2 separate regions of the Homo sapiens genome follow, and region 2 is linked to region 1. A link means that fine-mapping ties the variant in region 1 to the expression of a gene that starts in the linked region. Tissue or cell type: lung. Region 1 holds a variant in brackets; the other region holds the start of a gene. All regions are shown on one strand. Distances are between the middles of the regions.

What was found. PIP is the estimated chance that this variant, and not a neighbour inherited with it, causes the effect.
Region 2: CYP17A1 starts here. The variant in region 1 is fine-mapped to the expression of CYP17A1 in lung (TOPMed, PIP above 0.99).

Annotation. Positions count from the first base shown.
Region 1 is chr10:103,011,557-103,019,662 of GRCh38, forward strand. All of the region lies in intron 1 of CNNM2 (cyclin and CBS domain divalent metal cation transport mediator 2), which reads left to right. Among named protein-coding and RNA genes, the nearest start is that of CNNM2, 97 kb to the left of the region's middle. The variant G/A (reference allele first, on the strand shown) is at 4,170.
Region 2 is chr10:102,833,446-102,841,548 of GRCh38, forward strand. CYP17A1 (cytochrome P450 family 17 subfamily A member 1) reads right to left here and starts at 3,968. Exons shown (of 8, transcript NM_000102.4): 1 at 3,620-3,968; 2 at 1,809-1,947; 3 at 1,340-1,569; 4 at 591-677. The coding sequence starts at 3,916. It overlaps CYP17A1-AS1 (CYP17A1 antisense RNA 1), which reads left to right. Exons shown (of 2, transcript XR_428804.2): 2 at 732-1,059. RefSeq lists a promoter at 3,928-4,207.

The sequences.
Region 1 (8,106 bases):
TATGATTGTCAGAGAGAAGTGAGAAAAGAAAATGCAAAAAGCAACTGGTAACTGTTATTTAGTTTTCTTTTGCATAAGTAATACTTGCACTGTGTGTGTGTGTGTGTGTGTGTGTGTGTGTGTGTGTGTATGTATAATTTTTTTTTTTTGAGATGGAGTTTCACTCTTGTTGCCCAGGCTGCAGTGTAGTGGCGTGATCTTGGCTCACTGCAACCTCTGCCTCCCAGGTTCGTTCAAGCGATTCTTCTGCCTCAACCTCCCAAATAGCTGGGACTACAGGCACGCGCCACCATGCCCAGCTAATTTTTGTATTTTTAGTAGAGACGGGGTTTCACCATGTTGGCCAAGCTGGTCTTGAACTCCTGACCTCGTGATCTGCCCACCTCGGCCTCCCAAAGTGCTGAGATTACAAGTGTGAGCCACCATGCCCAGCCTAATGTATACAATTTTTAAAGCACAGAGAAGTATATAGTGAAAATTCTTCCCCTTGCTATCAGATCAGCACACTCTTCAGAGGCAGCCATTGTTATTCTTGTATATCCTTCCAGAAATACAGGATATTAACAGTACAACAAAGAATTTCATTGTTTACACATCATTTTATGCTTATGTAAGTTTCCCTGTAGGATAAATTCCTAGAAGTAGAATTGCTGAATCAAGGGATACCTGCATTTGCAATTTTTGTAGATTTGGCCAAATTGCCCTCCAATGAAATTATATTAGTTAACACCCCCACCACCAATGTAGGAGAGATTTTATGTAATTTCCTAGGTATCATTGATAATGTTTAAGAATTTCTTATTGCCAGGCTGGGCATGGTGGCTCGCGCCTGTAATCCCAGCACTTTGGGAGGCCGAGGCCGGCAGACCACCTGAGGTCAGGAGTTCAAGACCAGCCTGGCCTACATGGTGAAATCCTGATTCTACTAAAAATACAAAAAAATTATCCAGGCGTGGTGGTGGGTGCCTGTAATCCCAGCTACTTGGGAGGCTGAGGCAGGAGAATTGCTTGAACCTGGGAGGCGAAGGTTGCAGTGAGCCGAGATTGCACCACTGCACTCCAGCCTGGGAAACAGAGCAAGACTTTTTTTTTTTTTTTTTTTTTTAAAGACAAATTCTTATTGCCTATATGAGTGATCTAATCCTTGACAAATGAGTTTTCATTTTCAGTATATAGTTTGGTGAATAAACTCTTCTCTACAACAACAGTCTGTACCACACTGGCTAGAGTTATAGTGAAATATGGTTAAGTACTGAACCCTTTCTTAGACCCTATCAGATCCAAAGATACTGAACATTCTCCAGTGCTATCAAATCTTTGGAGAGAAAGTTTACCATAGCCTTTCCTTCCTTCTCTTTCCTTTTCCTATCTTGCTTCAAACATAGAAAGAAGTACCATATGAAATAAGTAAGCCTTTTTAGGCAGTTTTTTCATTCCTTAGCTGAGAGTAGAAGAGTGTGCTGCAAAAGACCTTCATAAAATTGAATAGGTAACATAGCAAAATAAGCTACAGTGTGGATCTTGGAATCAGACAGACTTGAATTCTGGTTCTGTGTGCCTCTTAGCTGTATAATCTTTGATATTTAATATTTATAAAATGAGGATAATAATTCATAGGGCCCTATTCTACAAAAGGACACTGTTTTTGTCAAATCCAGACACCTTCAAAGTAAGGATAAAAACCCAGGGAATGTTAGTTCCTTTTTAAGTCTGTTTTGTGATTTATAAAATGGGATAAATAGTCTCTTCTTCACGAGTTCTTGGAATAATTAAGATATACAAACACATTGGCACGCAGAGCACCCTCAGTAATTGTGAATTATTTTTTACTGTTACTGCAGTCATTTGATGTCTGTTGAAGGAATTATAGCCTGCATGGACTTACTGTGCACTGGAAGGAAGGGAAATCTGCTACCTGGTGGGTTAAAGCATTTTGCTTTAAAAGGTCGTTAGTAGAAGGCAGGCTGAGTGCTGGGTGCGCTCAGGTGTGACTGACTGCAGGACACCAAGAAGAAATGGGGTTTGAAGTAACAGCTCCCTTTATCCAAGCCGAAAACTGTGACGCAAACAGTGCTTTCTAAATCGCTGTGAATGGAACAACCTATTAGGGAAAGTTTCCATCTGGAGTACTGGTAATGAACTCAAATGAGAGTAAACTGCTGGAAAATTGCAAGAGCAATGGAAAATAAAAAGGGTGCCTAGATTGAATGAGTTAAGGTTGTATTATACTTTAGTTCAGAAACAAGTTATGGTGACTGGAAAAAGTTTAAGTAATTAATTCTAGAGTAAACTGTGTTAGATTAAATTTATTGGAGGGACAGCTCAAATTCTGTATTAAATCTGTGTAATTCTAGATCTAGGGTCAAGATTTAGATGAGCTCTCATCGTCTAATCCCAGTAGAAATTCCCTTAAGACAATTAGGACCTGAGAAACTCCTAGAGTAAGTAAGAACCATTCCAAATTGTAAGAAACAGTATTTTCTGACTGTATAAAATCTTGTTTTTCATTGGCCTGTTTATCTTTGCCCCTGCCATTTGTCATGTTGGTTCTCTTTACGCATTACAGCTTGAAAGTCATACCCTGATAGCTAGAATTTTAGACTCTTCAGTTAAATTCAGGCAATATTAATTGCATGCCTATTGGGTACCAGGCAGCATGCTAAATGTTAGGCATGTAAAGACAAGACGTTGTCCTTGCCCTCAAAGTATGCATAGCCTTGGCAGGTGGTATCAGTGATACTAACGATGGTGATAATCTAGCTAACATTGATGAAGCACCTGCAATTTACTCAATAACAGTTCTTGGTGCTTTGTATATATTAACTCAGTCCTCACAAGGGTCTTGATGTAGGTATTAATAGTATTATTTCATTTTACAAATGGAGACCCTGAGGCACAAAAATTCGAGTAACTTGCCTAAGGTCAAGCGGGTGAGAATTTGGAGCAAAGCCCTCGATTCTGCTATGCCAGACAGTTCCTGAGTTATTTATGCTTTGGTCAGAGCTTAGCTTATTAAAATTATGATTTTTAAAAGCCCACTTTTCTTTAAACCTTAAATATACTTAAAAATTCACTGAAAAATTTAGTTGGGTGTTAATATTAAAAATGCCTATTTGCTTGTTTTTTGACTGATGCTCAAGCGCTTTTACATTTGACAGATGAAATTCCTCTATTAAATACCATTTACAGGCTGGGTGCAGTGGCTCATGCCTATAATCCTAGAGCTTTGGGAGGCTGAGGTGGGAGGATCACTTGAACCCAGCAGTTCAGGGCTGCAGTTATCTATGATTGTGCCACTGCACTGCAGCCTGGGTGGCAGAGCACTACCCTGTCTTTAAAAAAAAAAAAAATTATAAACTTGACTAGAATTCCTTAAACATTTCAAAACATGCTTACAAATTTAATATATCTGATATCCCCAGGCACTTCAAACTTCTTCCAGTAAATCAACTACATAACTTTAATAAGTCAAATAGTCTCTTAAGAATTTTAAACATTTGAAAAACCAGAACATATACTCATGAGTGTAATGGTTACAAAAATGATGATTACACTTGCTTAAATACAACTTATACAAATATATCACTACCATTTATTCATTCAGGGGTTACAAATTTACCCAACCAAGGTGGACAAAATTACCATTTCGAACCTGCTATAGAGTTTTGGGGGTGGAGATTTAGGACTGGGTCAATAACTTTGAGGCTTATTTATTGGGCTAAGCTCTTTCATAGTGGTGGGATTGTCCAAGCCTGTACCTCTTGTGCTTACCCAATTTTTGACCACAATCTCTTACCTGCTCTAGAGGGAATGGAATTCTGCAGACCCTACTCAAACTGTGTCTTTACTGACTGATTTGCACTGATAGAACTGTGTCTAATAAATACTCATGTAATAATTTGGATTGATTTATAACACTTACAAATTATTGGAAACTCATGTATGTCATAATTCCATACCGAGGACCATCTCTAGCACAAATAGTACCTTTGTGTGAATTAACAGAAAGGTGCCCGGCCGGCTGCAGTGGCTCACGCCTGTAATCACAGCACTTTAGAAGGCCAAGGAGGGTGGATCACTTGACATCGGGAGTTCGAGACCAGCCTGGCGAATGTGGTGAAACCCCATCTCTACTAAAAATACAAGATTAGCCAGGCGTAGTGCTGCAC[G/A]TCTGTAATCCCAGCTACTCGGGAGGCTGAAGCAGGAGAATCGCTTGAACCCGGGAGGTAGAAGTTCCAGTGAGCTGAGATCATGCCACTGCACTCCAACCTGGGCAAGAGAGCAAGACTCCATCTCAAAAAAACAACAACAAAAAACAAACAAAAAACTCAGAAAGGTGCCCCTCTAGGTAGATGAATTACAAAAGCTCAAAGTTAAGCTCACCCCAGGCCTGGCTGGATTTTAATCTCTACTTGCCCCCTTACAGCTTTTAAGATTTCTCCCCTTTTAAGTACCATTAAGACTGATGAATCTTAACTGAATTGTCAGATTGTCATTTGAGCCTTTAAACTGGCTCCTTTGTAGACTTTCTGACAGAAACAAGATCTAGCCCCATCTAGATTCCCACGCCCCCAAGCCCCCCGCTTCCCCCAAGGCTAGAATCAGCTATTCTCCATGGAGCCAGTTGCTTTTGTGGTAGAATAGTATTAGGTACTGTTAGATACATTAGTGATTTCATTGCATATCAAATTTTTCTGTTGGATTACTGATACGGTTCTCTAGTGACAAAGCTCTAAAAGATCTCTTTTTAATGGGTCATGGTGTTTCCAGTGTAATTTTAATCCTTTAAAAATCTTTTCAATATTTCAATATTTCAAAATATTGAAAAGATTTTTAAAGGACTTATTTAAGTCCTACTATGTGGCAGACAGCATTCTAGGCACAGAGGAGACGGCAGTGAATCAGGTCATGTCCCTGCCTTCGTGGATTCAGTATCTAAGTGGGGAGCAGACAAGCCTTACATCTACCCCCCACTTATTTTCAAGCCACAAGCTTGTTTCCTGTGTCATTTGCAATACTTATTTGCCAGTTTTGATATATGCTGCCATGCCAAGCGGTGTGATTAAATTACAGTGTCGTCTAAACTTTCTATGATGTAACTGGATGTGTATTAACCAATTCGATCCTGGTCTTGAAGCCAGGCTTCGTTTGTAATCATTCAGTGCCTACTTGATGATCCTTCTATAGTTCAAGCATTCAATAGGGAAGACAGCGAATGGAGGCCAGTTCTTCACATTGCCTCACTCTTGCCCGTAGCCTCCTTTCCTGGGTGTTACTCCTCAGACGCTCTGCTGGCCCCTGCTGCTTCCTGCCCTGTTGTTTGTTTCTTCCTTTTGTTTCCTCCATCCAAAAGCCCCAATCTCACTGCAACATAGGGCTTTTTTTTTGGGCGGGGGGTACTTTGTCATATAGTTTTGTTTCCTTTTTTTTTTTTTAACCAGGTTAAAAAAGGGTGAATCAAACACTTTTCTCCTTCAGGTTCTCTTCAAGTCTGGTGTTAAGTTCTCTCAGTGGAGTAGGTATTTGTGAGGCCCAACAATACTTGGAAAGGTTTTATTCCTTAAGCTTGGTGGTAAGAACGTGGATGTTTGTTTTCTTTTACGCTGTTCGTCGTGTCTGAAATCTTTTGTAATAACTTAATGTTTTAATGTTCTGGTCTGATAACTTCTGGAGGAGTGGCAAAAGATGGATTATTAACAGCTAGTAGACGAATGCATGAAGACGTACGATGGAGGATGTCATTAGGTGTCTACTATGTGGCAGACAGCGTTCTAGGCATGGAGGAGACAGCAGTGAATCAGGTCATGTCCCTGCCTTCTTGGTTTCAGTATCTAAGTGGGGAGCAGACTAAGCAAATAAATATGAACCAAAACATCAGATGCTGGCAGGTGGTATGTATGGCAGAGAAAGGGCATAGTGACTGGGCAGGGGAACTGTTTTAGATAGTGGTCAGCAAAGGCCTTGTGAGGAGGTGACATTTGAGAAGAGACCTGAATGAAGTGGGGGATAATGAGTGTGAACATGTGAGGAATTGCTTTCCAGAAGTGGAGACAGGAAGAGCAAAGACTCTTCTTGGATAGGACTGTGTTTGATAAACAGCAAGAAGTGCCTAGAGAAAGGCAAGCCAGGCTGGGCACAGTGACTCACACCTGTAATCCCAGCACTTTGGGAGGCTGAGGCAGGTGGATCACCTGAGGTCAGGAATTCAAGACCAACCTGGCCAATGTGGTGAAACCCTGTCTCTACTAAACATACAGATTAGCTGGGCATGGTAGTGGGCACCTGTAATCCCAGCTACTCGGGAGGCTGAGGCAGGAGAATCACTTGAGCCTGGGAGGTGGAGGTTGCAGTGAACCAAGTTAGCACCATTGCTCTCCAGCCTGGGGGACAGAGCAAGAATCTGTCTCAAAAAAAAAAAAAAAAAAGGCAAGCCGCCAGGCCAAAATCGGTGGGCTGTGGCACCATAAAGATCCTCACGAGCTGCTCTAGTGGGGAGGTTTGGGAGAGTTTTGAGCAGGGGAGTGGCAGAATCTTACCCTTTAGAAAAGATTACTTTGGCTTTTCTGCAAAGGACTTACTGTGGAGAGCAAGGGTGAGACAAAGAGATCAGTAAGCTGTTGTAATTCAGGGGAGAAAGAATAGTGACTTGGACCAAGAGGGTAGAGGTATGGGGGTGGTGAGAAAAAATCAGATTCTGGATAGAAAAAGAGAAGAGGTAAGGATGAGGCCTAGGTTTTTGGCTTGAACAACTGGGTAGATGTTAATGCATCCTTCCCCTCCTTAAAGGAGGAACATATTTAGAGAAAGAAAGTGTGATATGCTTGGTAGACAGCCAGTGGAGATACTAAGTAGGCAATTGGATGTATAAATCCAGAATTCAGAGGAATGATCTGGAGGGAGACATAAAAGATCACCAGCAGATAGATAATGAAAATTTTGAGACAAAATGAGATCATTACTCAAATGAAGAAGTATAGACAGAAGAAAAGAGATCCAAAAGTGGAGGTTCAAGAGTGCTCTGATTTTTAGAGGTCAGGAATGAGAAGCTAGTACAGAGGATTGAGGTGGAATCTCCACTAAGGAGAACCAGGAAAATATGGTGGAAGCAAGGTAAATATACTCTTCTTTCCTTTTTTTTTTTTTTTTTTTTTGAGATGGAGTCTCCCTCTTGCACTCACTGCAACCTCCAACTCTCGGGTTCAAGTGATTCTCCTCCCTCAGCCCCCCGAGTAGCTGGGATTACAGGCATGAGCCACCACGCCCTCCTAATTTTTGTATTTTTAGTAGAGGTCGGGTTTCACCATGTTGGCCAGGATGGTCTCGATCTCCTGAACTTGTGATCTACCACCTCAGCCTCCCAAAGTGCTGGGATTACAGGCGTGAGCCGCTGTACCTGGCCTGTTTACTCCTTTCTTAAAAGGATATTTACGGCCGGGTGCAGTGGCTCACGCCTGTAATCCCAGCACTTTGGGAGGCTGAGGCAGGCAGATCACTTGAGCCCAGGAGTTAGAGACCAGCCTGGGCAGCACGGCGAGATCCCATCCCTACTAAAAATAGAAAAACTTATTCAGATGTGGTGGCATACACCTGTAGTCCCAGCTACTCAGGAGGCTGAGTTGGGAGGATCACCTGAGCCAGGGAGGTTGAGACTGCAGTAAGCCATTATAGCACCACTGCACTCCAGCCTGGGCGACATAGTGAGACCCTGTCTCAAAAAAAAAAAAAAAAAGAGTAATGAAATACTGAACAAGATGAGGGCTAAGAATCATTGTATTTAGCAAAATGAGAGGTCATGGAGATCACAAGAGGGGTTCTATTGGACAAGACTAATTTGGAGCATGTGGAAGAGAAATGAAAGTTGAGCAAGTGGGGACAGTGAATAGAGACAGCTCTCCTAAGGCTTTTGGTGTAAAGAGAAGTAAAGTAGAGTGATAGCAGGAACCAGATAGGGGACATGGAGAAGTTTTTCATTTTTAAAGATGGGAGGTATTTCAGCCTTTGGGTGTGCTAATGCAGATTATCTGGGAGAGGAAAGCCTGTGATGATGGAGGCGTCTCACCATGTAGCATTCTGTGGCCTCCTCCCAATCCTGTGGAGGTGGCGGTT
Region 2 (8,103 bases), 180 kb before region 1:
CTCCTTGAGTCAGTTTTTTTTTTTTTTTTGAGACAGAATCTTGGTGCAATGCCCAGGCTGGAGTGCAATGGCATGATCTCAGCTCACTGCAACCTCTGCTTCTCGGGTTCAAGTGAGTCTCCTGCCTCAGCCTCCCAAATAGCTGGGATTATAGGCATGCGCCACCGTGCCCGGCTAATTTTGTATTTTTAGTAGAGACAGAGTTTCTCCATGTTGGTCAGGCTGGTCTCGAACTCCCAACCTCAGGTGATCTGCCCACCTTGGCCTCCCAAAATGTTGGGATTACAGGTGTGAGCCATCTTGCCTGGCCTAGTTTTTGTATTTTTAGTACAGACGGGGTTTCACCATATTGGCCAGGCTCATCTCGAACTCCTGACCTCAATTGATCTGCCCACCTCGGCCTCCCAAAGTGTTGGGATTACAGGCGTGAGCCACCGCGCCCAGCCCTTAAGTCAGTTTTTATTGTACACCTACTATGTGCCAGGTTCTCTGCTTGGTTTTGAAGCTTCTACAGTGTGTAGAATGGACTCCACCCTGCTCTTGTGATTACTTTTAGCCTAACTCATATTCTCTTCTGCTCTATCACCTACCTTGTAATTTTCAAGTATTTTATTCAGCAGATCATTTCGTATTTTAACATGGCTCTTTAATTTTTCCAGGGTTTTGTTGGGGAAAATCTGGGAAATAAAAAGAAATGTTAAATCCACCCTTCTTCCATTTTGCTTCTCCAGCTGCCAGAGTCTCTCCTGGAGGCGGATCTTAGCTTTCTGTCTCTGGAAGTTCCTACTCCACCCCTGACCTTCAGCCAGAATGGAAGGCAAGATGGGGACACAGAACGGGTTTATCATGACGACGAAGACAATTCTAAACAAGGGAGGAGGGCGTGGTCTCCACCTCTCCTTCCCCATTCAATCAAACATCAAGCGCTGACTCTGCTATGTGTCCAGCCCTTAGGAGTGAGAGAGACATGAGCCTGAAGGCTCAGACAAGCTCCTTAACCCCGCTAAGCCTGCTTCTCACCTGCACAATGGGGATAATAAAACCTACTTCCAAGGGGAATTCAGCGATGAATGCGTATAGAATGCTTAGTACTGGCACATGGTAATTGGAAAAGAAATGAAGGTCATTATCTGGAGTACTAAGGTGCATAATTAAAAGGCTAAATCTATCTCTGCAGAGAAATGGCAAAGGTTTTAAGTGGCAGAGGAGGTAGAGGTGGCGGAGGTAATCAGGAAAAAGATGGGTCATTGCGGCTGGAGCAGGGAAGTAAAAAGGAAGGAAGATTGGGGACAATGTCAGGGTCTACTAGAACCTGAAGGCAGGGCTGGCAGCATCTCACCTTCAACCAGGGGACTAGGTCCACCAGGCTGTCTTTGCTCAGGTTGTCTATGATGCCTTCATTGTAATTCTGTATGACATTCAACTCAGGGTCCCCATTCTTGTAGGAGGTATTGAAGCAGATCAAGGAGATGACATTGGTTACCGCCACGAAGACAGGAAAGGAGATGTCTATGGACTGTCCGTTGTGGGTGGCCAGCATATCACACAATGTACTGATTTCCTGACAAACTGAAGGGAGAGGGGGCATGAGGGTGGGAAATGAATCAGCACCCTTACCCCCTCTCTGTACCAGTTGCCTCTTAACAGGAGCGGGGGACAGATAGCAGATGGCCACTAGATGGCAGCAGTAGCCAAGAAAAGGCTGCATTGCGCTCTAGTCCTAACCCTTACCCCTGCCCAACCCTCCTCTCCCTCCAGCAGCTCCTGTGGGATCCAGCCCCAGCCCCAGGGGCCAGCCTGGCACTCACTGATCTTCTCCAGCTTCTGATCGCCATCCTTGAACAGGGCAAAGGTGGCCATCGCCAGCCTTCGATGCAGCTGCCAGTGTGCGCCAGAGTCAGCGAAGGCGATACCCTTACGGTTGTTGGACGCGATGTCTAGAGTTGCCTTTAGAGAGCAGGCAAGGCTGTAGGAATCTCACACCATCCACCCCACTCTTGCCCTTACACCTCTGGTCCCTGCTTTCCTTCCTGGAGGAGAAGGCAGGTACCTGGCATGCTGACTCCCATGTGGGCACAGCCCCACTGCACTCCACCATGACTGCAAGGACTTGGTAGGACAGACCCTAAGGCCTCCTACTCCCAATTCCTTCAGAAATACAGTAGATCAAGGAGAAAGAAAGAACCCTTAATTAGAATGCAGCAGCATTGGGGTTCTTTTCGCTGACAGGGTGCCCTCTGGGCTTCTTTTTGCTCATCAGTTTCTGACCACAGGAAGGCAACTCTGGATGGGATAAACTCTCTAAACTATGCCTGTCCAGAGGGTAGGGAGCAGGTGAGCTTGTAGAGGCTGAGGACTGCACAGATCTCTGCTTTTCCCTGAGCCCTTAGCTGAGCTAAAGGCACAGCTCACCTCACTCAGGTTTACCCTTCCATTGCAAGCCTGCATACCCAGCCACAAGCCCACATTTGGAGAGTGCAGATGTTTTGTCTACCCAGTCTGGACTTGGGCCGAGCCGCCTCCTCCTAGAGGTGCCCCCCAAAGCAAAAGGGTCCAAAGCCTCCCTTTTCCATTTCCTGACCCTGAAGATCCACATGACTAGCCTTCTCCATCTTCTCTGCCCCCGGGAGGAAGCCAGCAGAGGTGGGAGCTAGGTAGTTGGTCAGCAGACCTGGCTGATTGGTCCAAGAAAAAATAAACCAACCCTTGGCTTGATCAAAGCTGAGAGGCTGGCAGGGCACAGTGGCTTACGCCTATAATCCTAGCACTTTGGGAGGCTAAGGTGGGAGGATCACGAGGTCAGGAGATCGAGACCATCCTGGCTAACATGGTGAAACACCATCTCTACTAAAAATACAAAAAATTAGCGGGCATGGTGGCATGCTCCTGTAGTCCCAGGTACTCAGGAGGCTGAGGCAGGAGAATCACTTGAACCCGGGAGGCAGAGGTTGCAGTGAGCTGAGATTGGCCACTGCACTCCAGGCTGGGCGACAGAGAGAGACTCTGTCTCAAAAAAAAAAAAAAAAAAAAAAAATGCTGAGAGGCTGGGGGCCCTGCTGAGTGGGAGGCTCATCAGCAACCCTGAAATGTCATTGTAGAAAACTGCCCCTGTGAGCCTGAGTAGCTGGAAATAGCACCAGGAAAGCAGCAATCCCAGCCTGCAATAGCTAGGCTAATTCTCCCCAGCAGCTTTCATGGAGGACAGTAGTCACTGCCCCCATTTTCCATGAAAAGTAACATGAATCCTGGCTGTATAAGGGGCACTTACTGTGCTGGGTGCTAGGCTAAGTGCTGTACATGCACCTTCTCAGTCCATTAGAGAAGTCTAGGCTCAGAGAGAGGAGTGGAGTGAGGATTCCTTGACCCCTCAGACCACTGTGGTCCTCCCATCCCACCTCCTGGGCAGCCTGGTAGAGGAGACATTCCTTTAATTCTTCCTGCCTAATTTAGAGGCTGGGTGGGGGTCTGAAGGTTCACTCCCTTCACATCATCCCACTAGTCTACTTTGGGAAGAATTACAGGTTGTTGGAGCTGGAAGCCCCATTCTAGGCATGGTCTGAAGACCTGAACAATCCCAGGGGGTGGTGAAGGGGGCAGGGAGGAGATGGGCACCACTTACCATTTGAGGCCGCCCAGAGAAGTCCTTGCCCTTCTTAATAAGCACCTCCTTGGCCAGCTGGTGGTGGCCGACAATCACTGTAGTCTTGGTGCCCATACGAACCGAATAGATGGGGCCATATTTTTTCTGCAGCTTGAAGAAGTTGTTATGCATATGGCCGTGTCTGGGGAGGAATGGCAGGCTGCCCACCAGGGGCAGGGACAGGAGGCTCTTGGGGTACTTGGCACCAGGGCACCTTCTCTTGGGCCAAAACAAATAAGCTAGGGTAAGCAGCAAGAGAGCCACGAGCTCCCACATGGTGGCTGGGTGCCGGCAGGCAAGATAGACAGCAGTGGAGTAGAAGAGCTGTGGCAACTCTAGGGCACAAGGAGGCCTTTTAAAGGGCTACCCTGATCTTCACCTTGACTTTGTGTTATCTCTTGCCTTGTGGAAAGATTCTCCTGGAGCCCAGCCAGGCCTGAGCTCATATCCAGAAGGGAGAGAGGCGGTGGGAGTGAAGGCCTCCTCAAGGGCTGGCTCAACTCCAGGGCAAACCTCCGGAGGAGGAGCTAGGTAAGGGAGGTCAGTTGATCACCCTCTGAGGAGCTCCCCATGCTTGAATGACTCCAGAGTGCGAATGGTATCTGGGCTCAGGAGTCAAGGCTTGGAACTTTCCATGTTGCAAAATCAAAATCACTGGACAGATGACAGATTCAGGAGGGTCACAAGTAGCAGGGACTGTTAAAGGTCTTTTATGCTTCTTTTTTTTTTTTTCAGAGTCTTGCTCCATCACCAGGCTGGTGTGCAGTGGTGTGACTGTCCATGCAGCCCTGGCCCTCCAGCCCATGTGGTTTTGGCAGCGATAAGGGCTGTGGGTTAATGGTCCCCAAAATAAAAATGTACATGTGTATGGGAACGAAAGGGGTGCTAAGCTGTGGGGAGCGGTGGAAGGGAAGGGAGAGATAGGTCAGTACTAGGAATGCCAGAGGTGGGAGGCCGTTTCATAACATTTCTTGTTGATCAAAATGCCATCAACACCTTCTTTGCTCATCAGCAGGACTAGCGTACTGGGGGAACCCACCCCCAATATTTCAACGTAGGTTCTTTCTATAAGTGTCAGCCGGCTGAGAAATAAAGAGAGACAGTATAAAGAGAGGAATTTTACAGCTGGGCCGCCGGGGGTGGCATCACATATCGGTAGGACTGTGATACCCACCTGAGCCTCAAACCAGCAAGTTTTTATTAAGGGTTTCAAAAAGGGGAGGGGGTGTAAGAACAGGGAGTAGGTACAAAGATCACATGCTTCAAAGGGCGAAAAGCAGAACTACTAATAAGTGTCTAACAAAGATCACATGCTTCTGAGGGAAAGGACAAAGGGCAAAAGCAGAACTACCGATAAGGGTCCAACAAAGATCACAAGGCAAAGGGCAAAAGCAGAACCACTGATAAGGGTCCAACAAAGATCACAAGGCAAAGGGCAAAAGCAGAACTACAGATGAGGGTCTATGTTCAGCGGTGCACATACTGTCTTGATAAACACCTTAAACAACAGCAAACAGGGTTCGACAGCAGAGAACCGGTCTGACCACAAATTTACCAGGGCGGAGTTTTTCCCCACCCTAGTAAGCCTGAGGGTACTGCAGGAGACCAGGGCGTATCTCAGTCCTTATCTCAACTGCACAAGATAGACATTCCCAGAGCGGCTGTTTATAGACCTCCCCCCAGGAATGCATTCCTTTCCCAGGGTATTAATAATAATACTCCTTGCTAGGAAAAGAATTTAGTGATATCTTCCCTACTTGCATGTCCATTTATAGCCTCTCTCAAGAAGGAAAATATGGCTCTTTCTGCCCGACCCTGCAGGCAGTCAGACCTTATGGTTGTTTTCCCTTGTTCCCTAAAAATTGCTCTTATTCTGTTCTTTTTCAAGGTGCACTAATTTCATATTGTTCAAACACATGTCTTACAATCAATTTGTACAGTTAACACAATTATCACAGTGGTCCTGAAGTGACAAACATCCTCAGCTTACAAAGATAACAGGATTAAGAGATTAAAGTAAAGACAGGCATAAGAAATTATAAAAGTATTATTTGGGAACTGATAAATGTCCATATTAAAATGAAATCTTCACAATTTATGTTCCTCTGCCATGGCTCCAGCCAGTCCCTCCATTCAGGGTCCCTGACTTCCCGCAACATCTCTCCCTTTCTTTTTATATAAATGTGCCGTGGCGATGAAGGCTTGCTCGTTCTCTCGGTTTTGATGCAGGATTCTTTGACTGGTCTGGCACACTAAAAACAAGCCGATTAAACAGAGAAACATGATTCCAAAATTTCCTACAGTGGAGCCCCCAGTAGACTTAATCCAAGTTGTGGAGTTTAGTCCAGAAAGACTTTCTGCCACCTGATCTAACGCCTCAGCTCCAGGCACAATGGATAAATGAGCTTGAGAGGCTTCAAAAATTTGTTTCTTTAATTTAGTTATGTCCAAGGATAAATTATCTTCCCTACCCAGAAGGTGTCCTTTGACCATTTCCCATGATCAGTCTCGTTGTAGGAATATGGTGTGCTATAGAAATCAGAAGTGTTGCAATCGAACTGCATTTGCATGTGATGTTCGAGACTCATTAGCTGGTCCCCAAGCCAAATAACAGACTGTCTTAAATCATTAGCTAATTTTTGATCAATGCCTTGTTGAGGATTCCACATTTGGGTGGAATTGCCTTACCAATCATTAACAAAATTAGCCATTTGAATAGATTGGTGTAATGCCACTCCGGCAGTGGTGGCCAGTGCAGTGACTGTAATTAGGCCCATGATCACAGTGATTAAAGTGAAAACAAATCTCTTGATCTTTTGAGAATTCGTTGTAACACTTCATTAATTAAATGTACTGAGGGGGAAGATTCCCAAGTTCTGGGTAAAGTTACTGGTATCCAGATTCCTTCTCAAGCTCGAACCAACATTACACTTTTCCTGAGTCAAAACGGGAGTTAACACAAGTGGATAAATGACAATTAATGCATTGGACGGTTTGATTGTTCATCCAAATTTTGATATTTCCCACTAACAGCATGTAAGGAGGCTTAACACAACTCTGTATAATAGTCAGGCTGGAGGTAAACAAAGCAGAATGTTTGAATCTACGTTGATACCGAGGGGGAGGAGTGGCGGTGGCAACGCCCAATGTTTGATGCCGTAAAGAAGCAATCCGAGGTGCCCGGGGATTCTGAAGAGGTAGGGGGACATACCTGGGTCCAGAAGAATTATCATAATGCCAATCAGAGTCCCATAAAGGAGGACTGGCATCAAAAAGAGGAAAATGGTCCAAAGGGGATTTATCATGGGTTTCAGAATCACGGATGTGAGGGGTGGTAGTGGGGACAACAGAAAGAAAAGTTTCCCCTTCCCATACTCGCAGTCTGGACATGGCAATAGCCAATTTCCAAAGTTCTGGGTGTTCTGGGCTCAGAATGGGGGATATCATAAGAGGCCTCGGGTGGCAGGGGGTAATGCTCTTATCTTCCCATTTTAAGGGACAGAATGAGCTGAACCTCCTATGCAAAGTAGGATGATGATCCTCGTCCTCCCAATAAGAAATAAAACAAGTAGCCTCCAGGCATTCCCTTCCAGCAGAAGAGCAACTGCTTTTCAAATAGCCCTTTGGTGCCCAGTCTCTTACTAAACCATATGAGTCATTTTTTAATAGTACTGCATGTGAATTAACACAATCTTCCCAAATTAAAGATTTAGATGGGCCCTCAAAAATTTTAGGACATGGTTTTCCTACAGGTTTATATTGAAAGTAGGGGGTATCTCCTATTACTCCCCCTTTCATTTGTCTTAAAGGAGAAAGGGAGAGGCTGGAGACCAAATGTCCCCGTTCCCCTGTGGCTGATCTCTCCAGAAGGTACGCAGCCCAGACTTGAGTTTCTAGATGGATACAACAAGGTGCATGTCCGAGGCACAGAGGAGGGTATTTATAACCGTAGGAACATTAAATGCAGTGCCTTCTTTTCCTGGTTGAGTGGGGCAACGGTCATCTGTAGCTCCAGGCATCCACACACTATCATTAGTATAGATTTCCGCAGGAGCATCCATCCAGGTGAGAGGTTGAATAAGTGGAGGAAAAGGCACATAAGCCCAGCAAGAATAATTTTGTGTAGCAGGTAAATCAATGTGAGGGGAAACTGGTGAGACAGAAAGTATAAGGAAGAGAATTATTAAATAAAACCTATTGTAAGCAAGATCCAGTGCTGAAGGAGGAATAGAAGAATAAGGGGATGTTATTTTCAGGCTAATAGAAATGGTGAGATTTTTAGGTTCGTAAGGAGAAAAAGAAAGGGAATTAGGAGAAGTGGGATTAGTTAGAGGGGTTTCTGTTGCCATTAGGGAGGATTGAACCAGACCCATTTTGATTTGGCGTGCCAGTTTCTGAGGAGTTGGCACAGATCTCACCAGGTATGAGGGTGGTCTCTGACGTGGACGTCTCTTCCCTGTGGT